Regions from separate parts of the Homo sapiens genome. Here region 1 is linked to region 2. Evidence: fine-mapped expression QTL. Tissue or cell type: unexposed skin. Region 2 holds a variant in brackets; the other region holds the start of a gene. All regions are shown on one strand. Distances are from middle to middle.

Evidence for each region. PIP is the estimated chance that this variant, and not a neighbour inherited with it, causes the effect.
Region 1: it holds the start of RNF8, and the variant in region 2 is fine-mapped to the expression of RNF8 in unexposed skin (GTEx, PIP 0.99).

What each region holds. Positions count from the first base shown.
Region 1 is chr6:37,352,922-37,355,602 of GRCh38, reverse strand. It overlaps RNF8 (ring finger protein 8), which reads right to left and starts at 1,620. Exons shown (of 8, transcript NM_003958.4): 1 at 1,328-1,620. The coding sequence starts at 1,438. RefSeq lists an enhancer at 1,318-1,367 and a silencer at 1,668-1,767.
Region 2 is chr6:37,545,182-37,547,862 of GRCh38, reverse strand. It overlaps LOC124901312 (a long non-coding RNA gene), which reads left to right. Exons shown (of 3, transcript XR_007059567.1): 2 at 1-80; 3 at 157-925. Among named protein-coding and RNA genes, the nearest start is that of MIR4462, 8.9 kb to the left of the region's middle. RefSeq lists an enhancer at 1,635-2,244. The variant A/G (reference allele first, on the strand shown) is at 1,178.

The DNA of each region.
Region 1 (2,681 bases), 190 kb after region 2:
GACTTGAAGAACTACTGCTCTGGGAAGGAACTAAATAATCCAAATCTTAGCACTTGATCATACAGCCCATATGGATGTTCTTTATACGATGACTGCTTCATTGTATAAATCCTCTCTCCCCACTCAAGCCTTAAACTCTTCGAGCGCAGAAATTTTATTTGTCCTCATTGTACACCAAACAATGTTAAATACTCAGTAAATACCTGGCAGACTGAATTGAGGCAGTACGGCTTATAGGAAAAATCTACCTGAACACACATGAGACTCAAAATACTTCTTGAATTTACATCATGACCAACCATCCACTTTTACTGCAAAGAGAACTTTTCATACAGATTATTTCCAAAACCCAAATGGTTCCCAGTCATCACAAGCTTGTCCCTGACCCAGTTCTCCTTCTCAACCTGATTGCAATCTAACTCCCTCCTCCCTTCCCTCGTCTTTTCAAGATGCACCACGCTGGTGCATCTTGAACCGTGCCAGGAACGGTACCTCATCTTTCCCCTTAAAATATTTTTCATTTGCAACTGCATTAATAAAGACGACAGGCAGCCTCTGGAGAGAACTCTGAATACCTGCCCGACCCACCTCAGGGAGTGCCACTCGGCCGTACCGAGCCTCACAGGAGAAATGTGGCCCAGCCCAAGCCGCCCATGTTCCTCAGAGTTGGGAAGGAGGAAGACATTTCTACGTGAAAGTTTGATTGCTTTAAGGGACAAAACCCAAAATTTGCAATCGTTTTCAAAACAAACTCGAGAAAGTTCAGGCGCCGGGCCCTGCCTCGGCTTCCCGGCAGCTCGCGGCCCCCGCCACCGTTCCCCGACCTGGCACCGCGGGGCTCTGTGCGCCCTAAACGGGATCTGGCCAGCCCCCGCCCTCCCCTCCTCGACACCCCCGCATCTCCTCACGTTCCCTGCGCGTCCCTCTCCTCCCAGTCCCCGGCCCAGCTACCCGCTGACCCAGGCCTCTCTGGACGGGGCCCGCTTCTCGCCCCACAGGCCGCGGGTCAGGGCCTCCGTCCTCGCCCCAACCCTTGTGGCCCCCCCGGGCTCCCCAGAGCCGAACTCTCTTTTCTTCCTTTCTCCCACTCGGCCCCTATTTCTCCCCCAAACACCTCCCACCGCAGACCCTTCAGCCGCTCGCGCCAGAACCGCTTTCTCCCTTCTCTCCCCAGGAATCCACCCCCCCCACAGACACTTCGCTCCTCTTCCTGATGCCCGCCTCCTCTCTGCCATTCATTCAGCCCAGCAAGACACCTTCCTCCCTCCCCGGAGCCCCGCTCCCTCCAGCCCCTGCCCTCCGCTCCACAGGACCCCTTCCCCCGTACCTCGCACCCATCTTCCAGCAGCAGCCACCCGGCGCTCATCCCCACCCGCCGCAGGCACCAGCTCCGGCCACCGGCGCGGTCTCCTGTGACGAAGAAGCCGGGCTCCCCCATCGCCTACTCGACCCCGGGGGCGGTCAGCACCGAGCGAGACCCTGACCTAGGTTCTGGCTGCCTCTGTGCATCCCCTCAGCTTCCATATCTAAATAACAGACAGAAGCAATCGCCACACGCTCGCGATCGCTGCGAAAGCAGGCTCCGCTCGCCCGCCCTCGGCCAGGAAGCAGGAGCACTACGCCTGCGCAAGAGGACGGCGGCCGCCCTGGAGCAAAGAGGGTGGGTTGGGAGCCAATCCGGCCCTGGGCGGGGCGGGCGCGATTCGAGAGGTCTCCTCGCCTCACACCTTCCCTCGCCGCCTCCAGAACCATCACCCCAGTCCTAGCCGCCCCAGACTGGAACCTCTTCTCACCTTTCCTCTTTTTAAAAAAGTCATGTGAAACTATAGCCCACTTTTAAACAACTTTAAACTTTCCATCGGATTTAAGTCTGCCTAGTCTGTTGCTAAATAGTCTCTATTTTGCACGACCTACTTATATTACCGAAGTAAAAAATAAATTACACTAGGCAAATCTACAAAGACAAAGAGCACAGTTACCTGGGGCGAGGTGTGGGAGCGGGTATTGAATGCAGATGGGCTTGAAAAAATTGGAGGAAAGCGGTAATAGAAATGTTCTAAAAGTGGATTGTGGTGACAATTGTACAACTGTATAAGTTTATTAAAAAGTCATGGAAGTGTGGCCGGACGCAGTGGCTCACGCCTGTAATCCCAGCACTTTGGGAGGTCGAGACGCGCGGATCACTTGAGTTCAGGAGTTGTGACCAACCTGGCCACATGGGGAGACACCGTATCTACAAAAAAAAAAAAAAAAAAAGGAGGAAGGGAGGGAGAGAAAGGAAAAAAGAAAAAAAAGAAAAATTAGCTAGGTGTGGTGGTGCACACCTGTAGTCCGGCTACTTGGGAGGCTGAGGTGGGAGGATCACCTGACCCCGGGAGGCAGAGGTTGCAGTGAGCCGACATGGCGCCACTGCATCCCAGCCTGGGCGACAGAGTGAGACCCTGTAAAGTGAAGAAAGTGTAAACTTCCAGTGGGTGAATTTTATGGCATGTAAATTATACTCAATAAAGCTGTTAATTTTATTATTATTATTACTGATTACAGACAGGGTCTCGCCCTGTCACCCAGGCTGGAGTGCAGCCTGGAGTGGTGCGATCTCAGCTCACTGCAACCTCCGCCTCCCGGGTTCAAGAGATTCTCCTGCCTCAGCCTCCAGAGTAGCTGGGATTACAGGCACGCGC
Region 2 (2,681 bases):
GAGAGGCAGGACAGTGAGCAGGCACTCTGCCCAGACTGCCTGTGTTCAACCTCCAGAGCTTACCAGCTCTGCAACCTTGGGTAAGTCGCTTAGCCTCTCTGTGCCTCTGTTTCCTCATCTATACGATGAAGATAATAATAGAAGCCTCTTTTTCAGGAAGATGAGGTTATGGGTGCTACGGAGCTCTGGTCCGCCAGTTCCTGCTGCAAGTCACCGCTGTTCACTCACCAAGAAACAAGTTGGTCAGGAAGCTGCACTGCAGCTGTGGTGTTTTTTTGTTTTGTTTTGTTTTTTTGAGACGCAGCCTTGCTCTGTTGCCCAGGCCAGAGTGCAGTGGCACAATCTCAGCCCACTGCAACCTCCACCTCCCAGTTTCAAGCCATTCACCTGCCTCAGCCTCCTGAGTAGCTGGAATTACAGGCACCTGCCAACATGCCCAGCTAATTTTTGTATTTTTAGTAGAGATAGGGTTTCACCATGTTGGCCAGGCTGGTCCTGAATCCCTGACCTCAAGTGATCCACCCACCTTGGCCTCCCAAAGTGCTGGGATTACAGCCACGAGCCCCCGCGCCCGGCCCAGCTGTGGCTTTTAAGGACACCAGAGAAACACTCATGGAGCCAGAGGTGGCAAATCACCGAATTAGAATTACCCTAACCAGCTGCAAAGAAAAATCCCTGGAGGTGTGTGCTGACTTGATCAGAGGCCCCAAGGAAAGAACTCTCAAAAGTGACAGGACCAATTCTGATGCCTCCCAGGACTTTGAGAATCACCCTGAGAAAAACTTGTGGTGGGCTGGGCGCTGTGACTCACGCCTGTAATCCTAGCACTTTGGAGGCCGAGGCGGGTGGACCACTTGAGCCCAGGAGCTCAAGACCAGCCTGGCCAACATGGTGAAACCCCGTCTCTACAAAAAAAATACAAAAATTAACCAGGCGTGGTGGCGCGCACCTGTAGTCCCAGCTACTCAGGAGGCTGAGGTGGGAGAATCGCTTGAACCCAGGAGGTGGAGGTTGCAGTGAGCCGAGATTGTGCCACTGCACTCCGGCCTGGGCAACAGAGCAAGACCTTGTCTCAAAACAAAAAGACAAAACAAAAACAACAACAACAACAACAAAAACTTGTGGTGCAGGTTCTAAGACGCAGGGTGTCTTCCAGATAAGAATCCACAAGTGACTC[A/G]TTGACTTGCACCGTCCTCTGAGGTTATCAGCTCATTACTTCCATTAGTAATGTGCCCAGGAGTGAAGGCTGAAGTCACCATTGCAGATGCTTAGGTCAACTATTTTAATTCATTGATTACTAGTTGTTAAAAAAATCATAGCAGCCACCTCCTAGTGCTGTTGTTAGGATTAAACAATCCCATGGACAAGGTTTCAAACAGCCCCAGGCACAGGCTATGGGCTCAATGATCATCAGCTGCTGGAGTCCCTGCAACACGGTGGGTGCGGGGGAGGGGTCAGGGTGTCAGGGAAAGGGATTGACTCAAGGCCTCCAGGCCTCACCCCGGGGAGGAGGAGGGACCTGGTGTGTAACTAACCTGTCATGAGGGGAGAAGGGCCATGGGTGGTGAGGGGGAAGGGAAGAGGGTACCCAGAAGAACAGCCAAAGTCAGGACTGACCTCTGGTGGGAAGGAAATGAAAGTTTGCGCTGAGGCTGTCCTGTCTCCCGCTATTCCTCCTTCCATTCTTCCTTCCTTTTCTACCCCAGTCCTGAGGGAGAGACAGACATGGAGAGATCCGTTGTCAGGCTTCACCCTGCTCCCTGGGCAGGCCTCAGGCCACCAACCATTCTTTTAGGGCCTCCAGCCCTCTAGATAGGCTGGCGTAGGACTCCACTGGGACAGGGTGGTCACTGCTGTAGAAGGCAGGGCTGTGTCCCCCTCAGACTGGGGCTCCCTGAGTCAGGGCTGTGGCTCCCCTCAGACTGCGGCTCCCTGAGGACGGGGCTGAGTCTCCTCCCTGGGAGTCACCTCATTTATCTCCTGGAACAAGACTGACCTCATGGGTGTTCTAGGGAGGGAAAGGATGTTCCATTTACTCAAAAATTCCTTTCTTCTTGCCAATAGGTGGGCCACAGGATAGAGCATTAAAGGGCCTGGTAGAAACTGGAAAGACCTGGTAAGGGCCATGGAGTCCATGCTTGGTGGTGGGGGCTGATGGAGGTTATGTTGCGGACATACTCTCTTCCCTGGTCCTGCCCCTGGCCCCAGCCAGAAGCTTTCTTAAGCTTGCGCCAGTTTCAGGGGGCAGGAAGGAGTGTGGATGGCTCCCCAATGCCCAGCCTTCTTAGGAGCCCCAGAGGGAAGCCCCCGTGGTGTAGGGGTCTGAAAGACCATCTCCACGCAGAAAACACAGGGGTTTATTGAGCTTCAGGGGCTGCCCACTTCGTGTCTGTTGCATAAATAATTGCAAACTCGCAGGCCAGTTCCTCCCCTAGCCTAGACCACTCACCTCTGCCAGCCTCTATCTTCCCAAACCCCGCAGGGCCAGCCCGTGTTCCCCAGTCAGCCCAGCCGCACATTGTGTCAACCTCTCTGTCCCCTCATTGCATTCAAGCCCGGCCTCCACTCAAGCCCTCAACCTTGTCACTCATTCAGGAATGCCCAGGCTCCACCACCAGAGACCCTGGTTCAATTGGCTGGTGGTGGGGCAGCAGGGCATTGATTCCTTTTCATTCCCCAGG